Regions from separate parts of the Homo sapiens genome. Here region 2 is linked to region 1. Evidence: fine-mapped expression QTL. Tissue or cell type: whole blood. Region 1 holds a variant in brackets; the other region holds the start of a gene. All regions are shown on one strand. Distances are from middle to middle.

The links.
Region 2: ESYT2 starts here. The variant in region 1 is fine-mapped to the expression of ESYT2 in whole blood (INTERVAL, PIP above 0.99).

Annotation. Positions count from the first base shown.
Region 1 is chr7:158,681,928-158,691,625 of GRCh38, forward strand. It overlaps NCAPG2 (non-SMC condensin II complex subunit G2), which reads right to left. Exons shown (of 28, transcript NM_017760.7): 5 at 8,641-8,795; 6 at 7,892-8,026; 7 at 5,421-5,515; 8 at 4,245-4,314; 9 at 1,373-1,459. Among named protein-coding and RNA genes, the nearest start is that of NCAPG2, 18 kb to the right of the region's middle. The variant T/G (reference allele first, on the strand shown) is at 4,961.
Region 2 is chr7:158,823,927-158,833,624 of GRCh38, forward strand. It overlaps ESYT2 (extended synaptotagmin 2), which reads right to left and starts at 5,583. Exons shown (of 23, transcript NM_001367773.1): 1 at 5,163-5,583. The coding sequence starts at 5,492. RefSeq lists enhancers at 4,357-4,426, 6,437-6,546 and silencers at 4,547-4,746, 4,827-4,876, 4,967-5,156, 5,207-5,306, 5,397-6,126.

The sequences.
Region 1 (9,698 bases):
TAAAATGACTTATCAGATAAATTTAATAGTTATCAAATAAAAACAATTTGAGGAAGAAACTATAATGTGTTATAAGTTGTGACAAAAACAATTACTTGGAGTTGAGTAACACGTTTCACTTGAGTGAAATCTAATATTCTCCCTTTAAATTCTTTTTGTGCATTTTTCCATAAATTTACCAAATAGTGATATCTATACTTATAATATCTTAATTACTCAGACTACCACAGCAAAAATAACATATGAAAACATACATAGTTTACATATAAACTACACATATAGTTTACATAAACATAGTTTACATAAATACATAGTTTAATGCAATTCTACTAAATAAAATTTGAAACACCAACTCATCTATGTGAAATAAATAACCCAAACTGACTACAACTAAATAAAGCCACACTGGGATGGGGGTGGGGGGTGGGTAGGACAGGGAGTTCATTGAATATATTTATCCTAAATATATGCAATCACGATTTTTAAATCCTCTGGAAAACTCAGTAGTCTAGATAAATCTCTGGGTTCTTTATCCTTGTGTAACTGAAATTAAATCATCAATAATGCAAAGAAACATTTTCTTATCCACTCAAAATTAATATAATTAGTATATTTACATTCTATAAATAGCAGTAGTTTCACTCTACAACAAAACAAAGAAATGAGTAGTCTTTATTCACTTGGTTTCTTGACATATGGTTGCCAAAACTAACAGCAAGCAAACAAGGCATCCCATGGGTTAGAACACTGATCAACAGCAGCTGCTTAATTTAAATAAACACAGCAGACCAGATTTTCCCATTCCTCCTGCCAGGATCCTTAAGATCCATCAAACACCTATCAGTGTAGTAATGGCACTGATGATAGAATCTTATCTAGTCAGTCCATTTACAATTATTAATATAAAGGTAAAGTTCATATCTAAATTCTGAGATTAATCTAAATTCTGAGATTACCTTTACAGAACAAAATATCAAAAGAAACAATCAAAACATTTATTCATTTGGTTTGCAGAAGAGCAAAATTGGAATTTAATAAGTAAAATAATAAAAATAATTTCAAATACCCTCTAGGATCTTTGAAAAAAATGATAGTGGCCATTAGAAACCAATAATTCTGGAAAATCTCAAGACAGAGAATTGAATTTAAGGTCATTCAAATACAATACTAACCATCTCAACAATACACCTTTGCTTTCCTCATTAAAACTTTGGTGGCAGGAATAAAACTGCCAGACATCAAATATCAAGGTTCTGAGAAATCCCCCTAACTGATGTCTGTGAAAGCTTAATTTTAAAATTTAACCAAAACAATTATCTAAAAACAAAACAGAGGAAACATTATTTCAAAAACAATCTGTTCACAATCTTACCTCCCGCACTTTGGAATGCACTGGAGACCTCCTCGGAAGGTGTATCCCGTGGAACATGAAGTCCTGGATGCAATCATTTTCAATCGCCTGAAATAACAAATGCAATGCAAAGCACTTGGTGTGTGTGTGTCCTACTGACGACCTGACAAGCAGTGCGGCATTTGAGTACAAAGAGTCTGACCTGTCCATCTTATATTTCATGAGAAAAAAACCTGGACCCTTTTGTCCAAGCTTTCTTATTTTAAGTCCATGCTTCTTAGAATCCCTTTGGTTTTCTTATAGCAAGGAGAATGCTTTGCTTCTCTTTTATTTGATGAAATATCAAATCTGTGCCAAATGGCAATGTAAGATTCCACCTACCACTCAAGGCTAGTTCAAATCAGACAAATTTCAGAGACTGAGTGCATGGTGAGTGTGGAGCCCCCTCTTCTGACTCATCACTGACCTGGACAACCTTCAGAAGACTGGATTTGTTCCAACAGCCTCCACAGAACAAAAACAGAACTACCTCTACGGCGGAAACTGTAAATAAGATATTTCAGGGCCACTGTTGACAAGGGCTGAGCAAGGAAGGTGTGTGGGAAGCCCTTCATCAGCCCCATGCACTAATGGTACTCAGAGTGCAGCAACTGGGAAAAGGCCTAGCCTCTAAGAGTAGCAAAAAACCCCAGTGGACCCTATGTCTGTACCTGTACTCTGTGCCCACCCTCACACATGAGCAGGATTTCTGTGGCTTTGAGGAAGGACCTAAGGAAACGCTCCTAGGGTTAATACTAATACAAACCAGAGTCTGCAGATGCTCAAGTTCCTCTTCCCCATTATATTTGAAAATATTTCCTTCACCTGAAGTCACTTAGCATCACTTAATGTGGGACAACCACACATTGTCTGACTTGCAATGAAAGATGAGATACACAGCACTACCTGGGAAGTTATTTGTACCATAAAAGTTGAATCCAAACCTTTAGAGCTAACTATCAGTATGCCAACATTCTACAGGACAACTGGTCCAGTTTCCTCACATGCCAATGGCATAGATTTTAAGAAAAGGAAAGGAGGGAGGAATGCTCTAGAATAAGCGATTTTAATGGTATAACAAGCAAATGCCATGTGGGCAACTTGTTGAGTCCTAATTCAAAAAAACTCTAAGGAGACATTTGAGATCACTGGAAAAATTTTAATGTGGCTTGATTATTTTTAAAAATACCAAGGATTTACTGTCACATTTTTAGGTCTTACAATGGCATTCCATAAGCACATTTTTGAGAGATGAATAAAGTAGTATGTAGAAATGAAATGTCAGGTCTGGAATTTGCCTGAAAAACTTAAAGAGAGGGAGGGCAGAGAGGAATGGAGTGAGACTGAGAAATACACATTGTTGATACCAATTTTGTATACATCTAGTCAAATAGTTTTTATTTTGTTTATTTTTCTGTAGAGACAGGGTCTCGCCATGTTGGCCAGGCTGGTCTCAAACTCCTGACCTCAGGTGATCCACCCTCCTCGGCCTCCCAAAGTGCTGGGATTACAGGCGTGAGCTACCACGCCCAGCCTATTTTTTATTTTCTAGAAGTCAGTGATAAACCTTGGCAATACAAATCAAGTGTAAGTTGTGCAGAGGAGCAGAGAGGATGGAAGTAAACCCAGACATGGGGCAGCCTCTGTCCACTCTGCAGGTTCCTCCCTCTGCCCATCAGTGCAGGGCCTGCTCTCCAAAGAGGAATGAAAAGTCAGGATAGAACACAGGGTTGTGAGAGGCTCCTTTCTGACCTAGAGTAAAAATTTTATTCTCAGAGAAAAATAAAATGATTGAGAACCTGGTATAAGAAAAATATAAGGGAAAACAAACACACTTTTTTGTCCAAAAGGGTATCTGGATGTTGAGTTGGGATTGTGGATTACATAGCCCTATCTTCATAACATAAATACTATGTATTCACCAGAGTTACCCATAATCAAAGAAAATATCTTCAAATTCTCAAAAATAATGTAACTAAAAGAGGTGACTTGAAGTCCCTGAACGGCACTATCCAATAGAAACTGAATGCAAGCCACAGATGCAATTTTAAATTTTCTAGTGGCTGCATTAAAAACAGACAAAAGAAACAGGTAAAATTACTTCAATATTACACAGTCATCCCTTGGTATCCATGGGGGATCAGTTCTAGGACCTCCCTCAGAGACCAGAATCTGCGGATGCTCAAATTCCTCATATAAAGTGGAGTAGTATCTGCATATAACCTATGCACTCCTGCACACTTTAAATCATCTCTAGATTACTTATAATACTTAATACAGTGTCAATGTTATGGAAATAGTTGTGACACTATATGTGTAGGGACTGATGACAAGGAAAAAAAAGTCTGTACATGTTAAGTACAATGCATTTTTTTCCCAAATATTTTCGATCCTTGGTTGATTGAATCCATGGATGCGAAACCCACAAAGGGCCAACTACCACATTTCGCCTAATACATCCAAACCACTAACATTTCAACATTCACTCAACATTTTTAAAAAGTACTGAGATATTTTATATTCTCATTTCCATATGAAGTCTTTGAAATCTGGTATGTTTCTTACACTTACAACACATCTTGATTCAGACTGGCCACGTTCCAAATGCCCAGTGAGCACATGGCTGGAAAGATCAGGGTCAGAGCTCCCTCCCAGCTGAAAGAGCACAGTCCTACCTCCCACAAACCACACATCTTAGCAAGTGACTGGATTGCCCATCAAATAGATTTTCATTATTTGGCTTTATTTTGACAGAGTGCATAAACATGGATCTTAAATAACCCTTCTTTGACTACTTATTTAGTAACTAAAATATAATAAAAATAAGTGTTAACATTTAAAAAAATGAAAATACCTCCAGTATTTTCCCTGAAGCCTTTTTCCAAGCTCTGAAATAAATTTCTGCAATGTATACCATCAAAGACCTATATAAAAAGATCAAAATAGTTTTAATGCAAATTTTAAGAATTATTCTTTCAACATGTATCATTTCAGCTACTCTCCAACCATAGTGAAGAAGAAACTCAGTTTAAACTAGTGCTTTGCAAATCATCTATAGAAATAGGTTATCTACCTGTAGCAAAAAGTAGAAAACGGAGAAGGTTTTGGGAAAGGAAACTGAAGTGACGAACTATTTCATCCTTCTCAGTCAAGGCTTACCCAAAACTTTACTATTTTCTGTGAAACTATGAGTGCATAAGTCCAGAACAAAATTCTAAAGTCAAAAATATTTAAATATAAATAAATTGTCGACTTGGAGTCACGTTGGACTTTTCACGCTACCAATTCCTGAGGTACAAGAAGCCCTAAAATACCAGTATCAACTTAAGAATCATAAGCTTAGAAATCTATTAGTTCAACTCAAATATTCTGAAGATGAGGAAATATGAAAAAGCAATCTAGTATACAACAGGAGCTTTGCAATCAGAGATCCAGAATCAGATCCCAACTTGGTACTTATACAGTTGCCTGACACTGGGAAATTTAGAAAGCAAAGCCTATCTCAAAAGAGAGTTGTGAGGATTAAATTTTAAAATGGAGACTAAGTACTCAGTGCTGGAGCAAATGAAG[T/G]ACTCTGCCTTGTGCCTGGCAAACGACAAGCACACACTTGACATCTCCATCACGCAGGGAGTGGCAGAGTCATGACTGCAACGTTCCCTGCTGCTCCTGCAGATTCCACAGGCTCTTCCGAGAAGCCACCCTGGCCAGGCCACGTTCAACCAAAAAGCACACATTGCATTCAAAGTACCATGGACATGGCTTTATTACGAGCGAGGCTAAGGTTCAACTGGAAACTATTTTAACTATTTAAAGAACTACCACAAATTAAAACCTTAATTTCAGTGGTCAATACTGGAAAAGAATGATTTCCTATAAAAGGAAAAAGCTACCCAGTGATCCAATGGTACATAATAAATAACGTATTTCTAAAGCTTCTAATCCATTACTATAACTTAAGAAGTCAGACCAAATGGAATCTTTCAAAACCAGATTAAGACAGCACAAAATCTTCAGTACTTTTAACACTTACTTTTGTAATCCCTGTAACTGGTTTTTAATGGTCCCGTGGATCATTTTGATGAAGTTGATATTCCAGTTGAAGAGACAACTAAGAAATCTTCTTCCCTAGAAATAAAAAAGGATAGAATGTTTACATTGCAACCAAATAAAAAGTGCCAAATAACAAACAATTATTTGAACGTCTAGTAAGCTAAACATTGCTATTGCTAAAAACGAGGCACATGTAATTATCACTGAGAGCACATGCACGAGTTGAGCTGTCTGCGGGGCCTGCACAGCCAGGAGCCACACAAGCCACCTCCCCCAGGGCCGAGCAGCCGCTACACTGAGCGCCTCTGTCCTCAAGGGCCACAGGTGCAGAGATGGAGACCACAGACAGTAACCATGGGTCCATAAACATCTCATTCTGGCTCTGTCATGGATGGTTCCATAGTCTCAAATGAAAGAAAGCTTTAAATCTAGCATAGGTGGGTGGGAATGGAGTTGAATATCCCAGTTCATTTCACCTTCTCATTTATAGATGAGAAAACTGAGGACTCATATAGTTAAAAGGCTAAGTGTTTGTCAAGCTAGAATTTCCAAATACACAGTCTTCAAGTCATAAATACATCATGTGATGATAATTTATATGCATGCTACTAGATTATGTATCTGAACCTAAGAAGAATGAATACAATCTTCATACTCTATAGAGTGCATAAGATGCATCTATCTAGAACTCTCTCAGTGAATAGCACCTTCATCTCTTACCAGCACACCACTGCACAGAACTGGAATCCTACAGAAATGCAATACATTTTGATTCAAATGCAGGGTAACCATGCTCACAACAGGCAAGTTAAAAAAAAAAACAGTAATATTCACTGGAAGTAATCTGTTAGTACAGTACAAGATGTTTATGGTTTACCCAGAATGACTGGAAACTGACCTGACCAAATTAATGATTGATTAGGAAACTACATTTAGATATCTTAAATTCAAAGGAGACATCAATTTTTTAAAAAGGGTAGAGGTTATAACACATACATACATTTATGTCTGTTATATATCTGCACACATATATAAGTTAACAAGTACGATTCATCAACTCCTTATGTATAAGTCAACATAAAATAGTTTATTGTTTGAATCCATCATTAATTTCTTCACTCTCCCATTTCAGAACAATCCTGGAGACATGTGTGGGGCACAGGCTGTGTCCAACATCTTTGTAATAACGATGGTGCTGACACAGCAAGGATGGCAAAGGGCAGCCCTCCCCAGGGGTTCTTATCCACCAGCGCCTGGGCTGCGGTTTGATACATATTACCTCATCTGTTCCTAACAACAATCCTGTGAAACAGTAACTGTTGCTCCTATTTTACAGAACAAAACTCTGAGGCTGAAAGGCCTGACCAAGGGCACCACCTATAAAGTGAACAAAGACCCTGGGAGCCAAAGGTCTCAGTCCTAATCACATGGCCCTTTGTCTAGCAGACTGCAGATGGCTCGCCGGGGTCCAGTTCTGTCTCTGCCGCTGAGCAGCTGTGACACCTGGAGGAAACTTATTCTGTACCTCAGAGCTGGTCCTCCTCTTCCTCTGAAGCCCTTCTCCACCTCCTTCAGGGAGGAGGGATGACTTCCTCCTTCTGCCTCAGAGATGTGCCTGCTGAGCCATGAGCATCCAAATGCAAAAGCTTGTTCTAGTCTCCCCTGGCACTGCCTGAGCATGTAGTCGACGCTCAGTAAACAACTGCAGAAGGCCCCTAACACAGAAGAACTATGCGAGCCTCTCTGTAATTCTCAATTCTTTAGTAGTCATGTTAACAAAAGTAAAGAAGATTAATTTTAATAATATATTTTATGTAAAGCAATATTTAATATAACAGACAATAAAAATATTGTCTATTATATTAAGTATAGAACAAAAATTATTAATGAGCTATTTTATGTTCATTTCTTTCCCACTAAATCTTCAAATCCATGTGTATTTTATACTTATGGCTAATCTCAGTTCAGTTGGGTCCCATTTCAGGTGCTCAGTAGCCTCATATGGGAGTTGACCCCAGGACGGGCAGTGCAGCAACAGGCCAGAAGCCTCTCTGGATTTACAGGATGGGTAGAAAAAAGAAAGGGAGGATATTATGGGATGACAGTTTTGAGTACATGGCAATTAAAATGGAATTAGGGCAGAAGGCCAGATCTCATTCATAGAGAAGTGCTTTCTCAACCTTATTTTTAATCATTCTTAATTTAAAATGTAATTACGGTTCCCCTAGGTAACACACAGCCACCTGTTACCATCCAATTTAATGATGAAATAAGCAAGGACTTGTAAAATGTCTTCTCTAGTACTGCCATGCAGTAAAAATCATGTGCAGTAAATAGCTCCTGGTAGCTAAGCAACACCGAGCATGGTGCAGACAGGAACCATGTGAACACAGGAGAAACATCTATTAAGAAGCAGCTCACAAACAGATCAAAAAACAAATACCTATTTACCTCTTCTTTCTTGATATAATTAATATTTATGAAGCACTCAAGTAACATATCTTTAATTTCTCCACTTTCCTCCAAATCATAATCAAAGCAATATAAAGCTTGATGGATACGCCAAAGCCGACATACGTCTGCACCCTAGGAATGACACAAAAAATGTGATACCTTTTTCAATGAACAGTAAAGTCATATTTCAAATCAAGTATATTTTATATCATAAATAATGGTAATTCTAGTTGATTCATCAAAGATTAAAAAATAACGACAAATAAAAACAGATTTTAAAATTTGCAAATGCCCCCTATAGCTCTACAGAACATTTTTTTAAAACATAAGGAAAATAATTAAAAATCCAGCAAGTTTAAGAACTTCCTCGATGATGAAGATTTTATACATCTGAACTGTCTAGTGCAGTAGACATTAGCCACATTTCACTGTAGAGCTACTAAAATGTGACTAATGCAACTGAGGAACTGAATTTTTCATTATTTTTAACTTTAAATTTAAACAGCTTTCTGTGGCAAGTGGCTACTACGTTGAATAGCGCAGGTTTAGAATGTTAGGAAGACGTTTAAAAATAAAGTCCTAGCTAGGTGGTGCACTCCTGAAGTCTCAGCTACTTGAGAGGCTGAGGCAGGAGGATTGCTCGAGCCCAGGAGTTTGAGGCTGCAGTGAGCTATGATCATGCCACTGCACTCCATCTGGGCAATAGAGAGAGACCCTGTCTTTAAAAAAATAAAAAGTGAGCATACTGTCTTAGTCTCCAGACTCCTCCTTAGTAACATGACAAAGGCTGTCTTTCCTGTGTCTTCCTTGGCAGGCAGGCCTTTCTCCCACCAGGTAACACACAAATCCTGAATAGAACTCTGTAGTTTTCGTTCAGACTCAGGTAATGCATATAAAATACCTAAAATACAGCACAGTAATTTTCCAATTAGTAAGGCAAATTCTTATTACTTCAGAGTCAACAGTTTAGAGTATCATGACTTTATATATTATTTAAAGCTTTGCTAAGCAAATAATATTAGTTATGTTTAACTTGCCAAAGATTTATATACATTAGTTATAAAATGCAAATAATGTTAATTAAAAAACTGTTTGACGATTGTTATAAAAAGACCCTCAACAGACATAATAGAAAAGAGATTTTTGGAACTGGAAGTCTCAGAGAAATCGTATCACCAATTTTAGAAAGGCAGATGCTGAGGCTAACCAAACCTCAGTGTAACAACACCAATGGTATCTCTGTTAACACCAGAGCCAAGACAGGTCTACTGACCAATCAATAATCCACTACTATCCCTCAATGTGCCAGCCTCAAATTTTGGCTCAGAGGTGAAAAACAGTCAAAGCAATTACCATAATGAATACAAAAACTGCAGTGCTTTTATTAACAGAAAAGCTCAATAATTAGATTAATGATACTAATGCTCATAATTATAATCTGTAGGTATCTGAATGTCATTACACTAATATAACATTCCTGAATTAACTGGGAAGTTGATAGCAACTACAGTGTTAGCACTAATCATTTCACTAGTTATTTGCAGACCATACAAATAAACTGATAGTAAAATTCACAAAGCATTTGGAAGCTATTTTCATTATGATTGGGGTGACTTTTTAATAAGACACTGTATTTCAACTCAAGAATTCAGAATAAAACAATGTACTATAAAACATACATAAATCCAAGTGATGCTAAGAATAAGAAGCTTGATGAGATACTTTGTCACAACAAACTAATTACACTCGCACAGTGAAGGATGAGGGTATGTGAAAAGTTTTCTTAAAAATCATTAAGATATTT
Region 2 (9,698 bases), 140 kb after region 1:
AGTCCTAGCTCTATACCCTCCCATCCTTAAATGTAGAATGATAATAATATTAATCTTAAGTAGAAATTTTACTAAATCCACAACATACAGGCTGATGGATTGCATATATCCTAAATTTAAATCTATTTTTTAGCTTAAACTAAAAACCTGATATTTACTGCTTTATTTTTAGCCATCTTGGGGCATTAATGTTCTAACTGAAGGAGGTTCTCAGACCACAGAACTGAAGCAACAACGGTCACATCCTTTCCCTTCTGTGTCTCAGCCGCAGTGTGGGTGTGAACAAGAAACCCAAGCAGCATCCTCATCCTATCTGCAGCTACGATGAGGACTCCAACACTTCCTCAACCACATGACCACTCGGATTCAGGTGCTGAAGAAGCACTTGTTTAAAATAGCTAAATTGTGGCTCCTGAATTAGCTATGCCAACTATTTTCAGTTACAAGTCTTCACAATATTTTATTAAAGTATTAAGTCAATGATTAACACTGAGAATAAAAAAATATTTGCCCTTTCTTTACATGAGATCACAGTGCATTATTTTCTTCTGTTCATTTAGTTCTTAGACTATACATACCATATTTTTGCTAGAGTTAAATTTTCCTGAACTTCCCAGAAGGGCAATGGGAAGAAAGCTCTCCCCAGAGAAAGTTTGTATACAAAAGTACAGAACAACATAACCAAGGAAGCTAATATGCTTTAATTCTCAATAATCCAAGTATGAGGGTAATAAAAGACCAACTGTCAGAACAGTTAAGTAGTATTATCCGTGACAGTATTATCCATAGCAGCCATACAATCAGCATTTATTGGCAATAGTAAAAGCAGGATAGAGTCAGACTTTATCCTATGAAGAGATAATATTTTCAAATAAATAAAAATAGTAATGAAAAATTGCCCTTATTAATCTCTATAAAAACTCTTCAAGAATCTTCCTCACAGCCCTGAGCATGGTGGCATGCAACTGTAATCCCAGCTACTTGGGAGACTCACGTAGGTGGTTCGCTTGAGCCCAAGAGTTGAGCCCAAGAGTTCAAGCCTGGGGAACACAGCGAGAACCGCCTCTCTTTAAAAAACAAAAAAGGCTGGGCGCGGTGGTTCATGCCTGTAATCCCAGCACTTTGGGAGGCCAAGGCTGGTGGATCACCTGAGGTCAGGAGTTTGAGACCAGCCTGGCCAACATGGTGAAACCCTGTCTCTACTAAAAACACAAAAATTAGCCAGACGTGGTGACGGGCGCCTGTACTCCCAGCTACTTGGGAGGCTGAGGCAGGAGAGTCGCTTAAACCCGGGAGGCAGAGGTTGCGGTGAGCCGAGACCATGCCACTGCCCTTCATCCTGGGCAACAGAGTGAGACTCCGTCTCAAAAATAAATAAATAAATGAAATAATAAATAAATAAATCTTCTCTTCTTCACCCAGGGTAGTCTAATGGTCCAGGGCCCATTACCACAGGGTAGACACTTAAACAACAAAAAGCCCTGTCCTCAATTCATCCAGCCTGCCAGGCCTTTCCCCTAAGCAGTTGGAACATAACTGTTCATGGGAAAAGAAGTGAAGAATAACAACACTGTTTATATTAAAGCTGTAGGACCAAACTTACAGAATTATCACAGTTAAGTGAGAGCCATCTGTCACATCCTAATAGCCTCAATCAGGAACAGTACATATAGTTTCTCAAAGTATTAATACTCTTATCTCATTTCCATATCCAGCTTCAGTTTTTACTCAGTAAGAAGAAAAGCTGTCAGTGAATATATACAAAGGTGAGGTGAGGAAATTAGTATCTCCTTAATTCATGTTTTCCTATGTTTCCACTCTGCCATGAATTCACGGTTGTCAACGACACACTATGAAAACAAGTACAGCCTTTGGGATGTACAGATACATCTTGTTCAAGGCAAAATACCAGTCCAAAGTTCAGAAACCCCAAGCACCAATGTATGTATGGTAAAAATCAAGGTACTAGTAATATTGGCCAGGCATGGTGGCTCACACCTGTAATCCCCACACTTTAGGAAGTCTAAGTGGGAGGATGCCTCGAGGCCAAAAGTTTGAGACCAGCCTGGACAACGCGGTAAGAACTCATCTCTAGAAAAAAAAAAAAACAAAAACAAACCCAAAGTGCAAGTAATACTGAAATCTTAACTTTTCTTATTCATAGTTTCTTCTATTATTGATGTGCTTTGACCACCCCCACCACCCCTGCCGCGCAGCAGAATTTCAGGCACACTTCGAGACCATGCAACCTGCTGGTTTTATTATGAAAATAAAGTATATTACACTTTTAATAAATATCACAAAATAGATACATAAGTATAATTTAAAAGATATTTTTAAAATCTCTCTAAAACTGTCAACATAATCACTGTCAAGTTTCATGTGAATCCTTCAAGAAGCGTCTTAAGCATCCTAGGCACACTGAAGTTTACACATGTGGGATTATGAGCTCAAGTACAAATTTGGAATAAACAAGTAAAACATTCTGGAGAAAATATAAATTCTTCATGAGGTGAACACCACAGTTCATCAGTTTAAGTCACACAGATTAAAAACTTGAAAAGAATCTTTGGCTAAATTACTTTTGTATTTTTTTTTTTTTTAAAGAATTTCAGGCTGGGCGCAGTGGCTCACACCTGTAATCCCAGCACTTTAGGAGGCTGAGGCGGGTGGATCACGAGGTCAAGAGATCGAGACCATCCTGGCCAACATGGTGAAACCCAGTCTCTACTAAAAATACAAAAATTAACTGGGTGTGGTGGTGTGCGCCTGTAGTCCCAGCTATTCGGGAGGCTGAGGCAGGAGAATGGCTTGAACCCGGGAGGCGGAGGTTGCAGTGAGTTGAGATGGTGCCACTGCACTTCAGCCTGGCAACAGAGCGAGATTCCGTCTCAAAAAAAAAAAAAAAAATTTCAGTTCTTCAATAGGGCAGCAATTTCATCTGTACAGTCTGTGTGGCCGGGCGCGGTGGCTCACGCCTGTAATCCCTGCACTTGGGGAGGCCAAGGCAGGCGGAACACAAGGTCAGGAGTTTGAGACCAGCCTGGCCAACATGGTGAAACCCTGTTTCTACTAAAAATACAAAGATTAGCTGGGCGTGATGGTGCACGCCTGTAATCCCAGCTACTCGGGAGGCTGAGGCAGGAGAATCTTTTGAACCCTGGAGGCGGAGGTTGTAGTGAGCCGAGATCACGCCATTGCACTCCAGCCTGGGCAACAGGGAGAGGCTCTGTCTCAAAAAAAAAAAAAAAAGAAAAGAAAAAGAAAATCTGTGTTTCACAAAGATTTTTAACAAGCAAATTTGATATTAGCCAATAACCAAGTATCTATGAAAGTCAGCATCATCACTTCCTGCAAATTTCAGCACTGATAACATTGCTATGTTATCAATATAACATAGCAATGGATGCTAATGGACTCTGTTTTTAGCTACTTTTTAGTATTATGCATCTTAGTGTAATATAGACACAAAACGTCACTTTAAAGTCCTTTTCCATTTCCAAAGTGCACCTCCTCTGTTCTTAGTTTTCCCCACCTCGGTTCCTCTTAACTTCCTTTTTCTACACACCCCTCGGTTTTTCCCGCCGCTAGCTAAAAGCTGCACCATGCCAGTTACCTTGGTTCTCCAAATATGACTCCCTCATGCTCACCACGCATCGGCAGAACTGTACATTCCCAAGCTCCTTACATTATATTCTTACTCCAGTTGCAATATGACGTCACAAAGTAGCATCTACTACCTTCTTCTTGTCTTGGGCACGCCTCCTTTCTAATTCTTGTTTGCCATCTGTGTCATGCCTTACTTCTCAGGTGTCTCATGACTGGAAACAGGGACTTTTCTCCTCTAAGAGAAAATGACCCTTCCGAAACCCACTGCTGGTCACCTTCACCCCAAAGTTTATATTAAGCCTAATGGAAGAATCATTAAAATCCTTTCTTGCAGTGTGAAACTGTGAAGCCAAGTCATGGCTAAGAAAGAATTAGGGAATGACAAGAAAAAGATTTGAAGCCAACTCTTCGTGTCTATAGTCCATAAATATACGAGGTAGAGAACTGCCGGGTTAAAAATAAAATAATACCATGACTCTTGTTATTGCTGCAACTCTTCCAAAACTTCCTGCCACACACACACACATTCACACTGGATTCAGGTCGATCCCATATAAAAATGCTCAGTCTCACAATTATACTTGCAAAAAAACTGAAACAATCTTTCAATTATCTAATATCTCCACATCTTTCGAGAGACACTTACTGCCCTTGAAATGCGTCAGAAACAACCAAGACACGAGTGCGTCTTCTCCCGGTAGAAGAAAAAGTTAACTTCTCCCCCACCAGCTGTCATTACGTTTTTTAAAAAACAGAGAGAAGGAAAAGCTGAAGCCACCCGGAGCATTTCCAGGCCGGCAGGGCTTTGGGAATGCGCACGAGAATCGCGCTGGGCGCTCTGAGAGCAGAACCGGCCGCTCAGGCCCCTAAGGAGACCCCGCGGGCGGCACCAGGAGGAAGCGCGCGCTCCGGGCAGGGCCGCGGCCGAAGAGGGGGCGCCAAGCCCGGTACCTGCCGCTGGCGCTCGGGGTCTGCAGGCCGGGGGAGGGAAGCGGGCTTTGTGAAGAGGGGTCTCCGAGAAAGCCGCGCGGGACGGCGAGGGGAGGCTTCACGAGGGCAGACGCGCCCCGGACCCGGAGCCTGGGCGGGCGGGGAAGCGGAGAAGGGGACGCCCGACTTGGACGGAGGGAGGGCACGGAGCACTCAGGACTAGGGCGGGAGCGGCGAGCAGCGGGCGGCGGCCCCAGGCGGACAGGTTCGCAGGGAGTGGGCCGGAGGCCGGGGCGGGGCTGGGGTCTGCACTCGCCCTAGCGGGCAGGTCGCCAGCAGGCTGGGAGTCGGGGCCGGGGGGCGGGGCGGGGTCTGCACTCACCTAGGTTGGCAGGTCGCAGGAACCGGCCCGGGGGCCGGGGCTGGGGTCTGCACTCGCCCAGGCGGAAGGGAAGCGCCTGCCTGGACCGGGGTGGGTGGGGGACTACGAAGGCGGGAGCCGGGGCAGGGCTGGGGTCTGCACTCACCCAGGCGGCAGGTCGCGGGGAGGGGAGTGCCTGCCTGGACGAGGGGAGATCGGGACTGGTGGTCAGGGGTCGGGACGGGCAGGGGTCTGCACTCACCCAGGCGGGCAGGTCGCAGGCGCGCACCCCCAGGCGCACGACGCGCTCCTCGTCTTCCAGCAGCGCCAGCGCGCGGCACAGGCGCAGGGCCTTGAGGCCGCGGCTGCGGCGACACCAGGCGAGCAGCGCGAGCGCGAGGAGAACCCAGCTGAAGCTGAGCCCCAGGTAGCCCAGCGCGTACACGGGCAGCAGCAGCGCGAAGCTCCGCGCCAGCTGCGCCAGCAGCCCGGGCAGCTCCACGCTCAGCACGCCCCCGGGGTTCTCAGGCGCCGCGCGGCCCCCAGCCCCGCCGGCGCCCGCCTCCGGGCCCTCGCCCCGGGCGCCGCTCATCGCCCCGCAGTGCCGCGCTGCCCTCCCGGCCGAGGCGGGCTGGGTGCTCGCGCTGATCCCGGGCGGCTCAGCCCCGCGCCAGCGCCCCTCTGAGGGGACGCGGCTCCGCCGCACGCCCGCCTCCGCCCGGGACGGTGGCGTCATCACGCGGGGCGGGAGCGGCGTGGGCCTGGGGCTGGCACGTCACCGGGAGCGGGCGGGGTGGATACTGACGTCATCGCGCGGGGCGGGCCGTGGGCCGGGTCGGAGACTACTGGAGTGGGCCGGGCAGGCGCACGACGTCATCACGCGAGCGTTGTGTCTCGGCTGGCGGGAGCCGGGGACGGGAAAGGAGAGTGCTCGGTGCGTGGGCTGGGCGTGCCTGCGTCCCCTCGAGCCCCACGGGGCACCCTCCCCACTTGCCTGTGGCCTCGGAGCCCGCGGGCGGTTTTGGCTCGGCGTCGCGCCCCGAGGCGGCTTCCGGGTGCGTGGCTGCGCTCGCCGAGGCCCGGGAAGTTGCCGTCGTCAAACCCAAAGGCTGACCGCCTCTGGGAGCTGCTGGCAAACGTGGGGGTGCGCGGCCGCTGAGCGCAGCCGGGGTGGCGGTGGGATGAGAGGGCGGCGTCCCTGTTTGCGGTCATTTTGCGGCCAGGAGGACGGGTGAGAGGGCGCCGCCCGCCGGAGGTCGGACGGGCGCCGCTGGCGGGAGTCCTCCGGTATTTTTCGGTGTGAGGTTGCCTAGCCAGTGTGCAAGGTTGTGGCTTTTGCGGAGTCTCTCGGGACGGTCTTGTTATCGGGCATTCCGGCGTGAGAACGCTGCCTCTGGGGCCCTTCCCACCCTGCTTGTCAGGGTTTTAAACACAAACGACTCCGTTGTGACCTTGACAACTCTCACACAGTTCAGTTGGCTTTTAAGATGCCTTTAATCCCAAAAGTCCTCCCTGAGGGGTCTGGTAGTGCCGGGCAAAGACCACCGCAAGCGCCCAAGGGACGCTGTTGACACTCGGGAACTCCACCCCGGGCACCACGCAGCTTCGCCGAAGGTGTTAATATTGTGGCCAACTATGAATAGCTGTTTCAAACGACTAATTTTGGGCCTTTCCTGTGATTCCTGAGGTCACTTTTCAGTTAACTCAAAAACACAACTATTGATCACTTTACTTTCCAGTGAATTCAATCGAGTTAATTATATTTGTTCTGTAGTTTCTTTCAAGGAAACTCCAAGCCAAACAGTAGCAAAGAACATCCTACTTGACTGTTTTTGAGCATATTCAGTGAATTCCAAGGAAATTTTTACTGAATTTGTAACAGAGTAGGGCACTGGCAGGTACTGAATGAATAAACAAATGCCCAGAAGAAGCAGGGTCACCTTTACATAGGAATCTGTCTCCCCTCGTTCCTGCGTCTTCATAATTTTGTGTGCATATGTATGTGGAGATTATATCACATATGTAAAACATTGCAGAGTCTAAACTCTCAACTCCAGGCAAGGGCAGTAAACCCCAAGCAAGGAATGGAAGTGGTTTCCCTTTTCTTACTCTTCACAGTCCCTGGTTTGCTGCAGCAACAAATTATATTATGTAGATTGTAAATATGCAACCGGTTAATGCTCCTAACACCACCTTTCATTCAAAACTAAGCCTCAACACAAAAGCAAGTAATTGCTTTGTTGACACAGAAAGGAGCCTGAGCCTTTCTTTTGCAGCTTTCCTCTACTGGAAAATTGTAGGATCACATCCTACAAAGACTTGCATAAACATAAGCCACGTAAAAAATTCTGTAATCCCAGCACTTTGGGAGGCCGAGGAGGGCAGATCACGAGGTCAGGAGATCAAGACCATCCTGGCCAACATGGTGAAACCCCGTCTCTACTAAAAATAACAAAAAATTAGCCGCGCATGGCGGCGCGCACCTGGAGTCCCAGCTACTCGGGAGGCTGAGGCAGGAGAATTACTTGAACCCGGGAGGCGGAGGTTGCAGTGAGTCGAGATCGCACCACTGCACTCCAGCCTGGGCGACAGAGCAAGACTACGTCTCAAGAAAAAAAAAAAAATCCTGTGCCATGTGCCATCCAGTGGTTGACCCAAGGATGTAAACTAGATTGAAGAGAAGTTTCCATGTTGCATACCAGTCAGCCCAAGTGTCCTCAGCTTCCCTCTGTGTGAGCCCCGGGTTTCCAGCCCCTCCCTGTGGTTAATTGCCTGCAGAAAGCAGATCCTAAGGCTCTGCCACAGCTCAGTCTTACAGGTGTCTGGTCTGACTGCAGGTCCAGCTCGGCTCTTAGATTTTTGCTAATATTATACCCCTCAATCTCCTGTGACCTTTCATGACCCCTCCATCCTTTCCTTCTTGTAGACAAGGAGAAGTGCTGCTTTCTCTGGAGTGTCATTCCGAGTGCTCCGGTGCACAGCTGCGAAGTTCCAGCCTTCCTGGTTTCAGAGGAAAGTGCTATCTTGTGCTTAGGTTCAACTCTTCCTGCTTTTGGGTCCTCCCCCACACCTCTAAATACGTCTCGTTATGGAGGGTGGGAGCACGTGCTCTGCATCTCTTCAATTTGGAGGTTATACCAGCAAATTAAATATACTGGGGACAGTGAAAGCCAGGTTTCTTGCTGTTGGAGAAGGTAAAAACATGGAAGAGGGAAGGCTAAAAAGAACACTGAGGGATTGGATTGGAACTGGAAGTGGTAGTATGAACTCATTTTTTTAAAATATGTATATACAGATAGATATAAAGATAGCTGTATGTGTGTGCACACATGTGTAGGTATATGTGCATATAAACACAGAAATAGTTTCTAGTTCTGTCTGCTGAGTATCTAGATGCAATGGTACCCCAGTACCAGTGATCACAGCTAGCCCCCAGATCTTATCTTCTAAATAAGGTTTTCCAACAAAAGGAATCAGGGCTCTTTGGAGAAATGGTTAATTTCAGGGCTGGAGTGGAAGTACAAGATGATCCTGGAATAATTTTGTTGTTCAAGGAAGTGAAGAAGTGCTCAAAGATTGACAGGAGATCAAAGGACATGGAAAGTAGTTGGAGGGAGTTCTTGCTGGCGAAATCTAGGACAATTTGAGCAACAAAACAAAGAATGATATTGGCAGATTACCACTGAGTGAGCAAAATAGAAACGCATGAGTTGAGTCCACACTGATGTAGATCAACAAACCAGTGATGAATGCAGGGAAAATAATAGTGGAGAAGGGGAGGTTCTTCTTTACAGTAGAATGTGAACTCATAAATGGAGAAGGAATTATGAGAATGGAAATAACCATTTACCAATCACTGTAGTGGGGTTGTTGCAGGAGTGAGAATGGAAATAACCATTTACCAATCACTGTAGTGGGGTTGTTGCAGGAGTGAGCTATCAATGGAGGCTCAGGGTGGTAGGTGGAGATTTGATGAGGAATGAGAATGGACATCTTTCTTCAGCATACTTTTCCATTACAAAGAGGAAAATTGAGACTTTCTGGTGGGAAACACCAGCAGACACCAGCGTGGCCAGGTAATGAGACACCTGTCACCAGTGGAGAAAAGTTGAAACTGAGTCCCCGTGCACTGTGCTGAGAAGAGCACAGCAGCACGCCTGACACTTTTCTGCCAGAAACCACAGCCTCAGTCTAGCCTAGGGAATATCAGATAGACCCAGAAGGAAGGCCATTCTGTTTTCTTTATTACTGTCATGAGCCAGGAACAGTGGCTCACGCTTTGGGAGACTGAGGCAGAAGGATCACTTGAGGCTGGGAGTTCGAGACCAGCCTGGGCAATGTAGTAAGACTCCATCTTTACAAAAAAAAATCTTAAAAATTGCCCTGGCATGGTGGCACGAGCCTGTAGTCCCAGCTACTAAGGCTGAGGCAAGAGTATTGCTTGAGCCCAGGAATTCAAGGCTGCAGTGAGCTATGATTGCACCACTGCACTCTAGCCTGAGTGACAGAGGGAAACCCCTTCTCAAATAAATAAATTGTCATAAGAGACAGGATAAGACTAAGAATTGTTCCAGATTATATGAGACTGAAGAGACATAACAACTCCATGCAATGCATGTTCCTGGGAGGTCCCAGACATGGGAAAAGAAGTGTGGGCACAGTTGGTGAAGCTTGGGTGGGGTCTATGGGTTGGACAATGTATTGATATTGATTTCTCCACTGGGAAGGTTGTGTAGTGGAGGTGATCCTTGTTTTTAGAGTATTTGGGGGTGCCGTGGTTTGAATGTGTCCCTTCCAA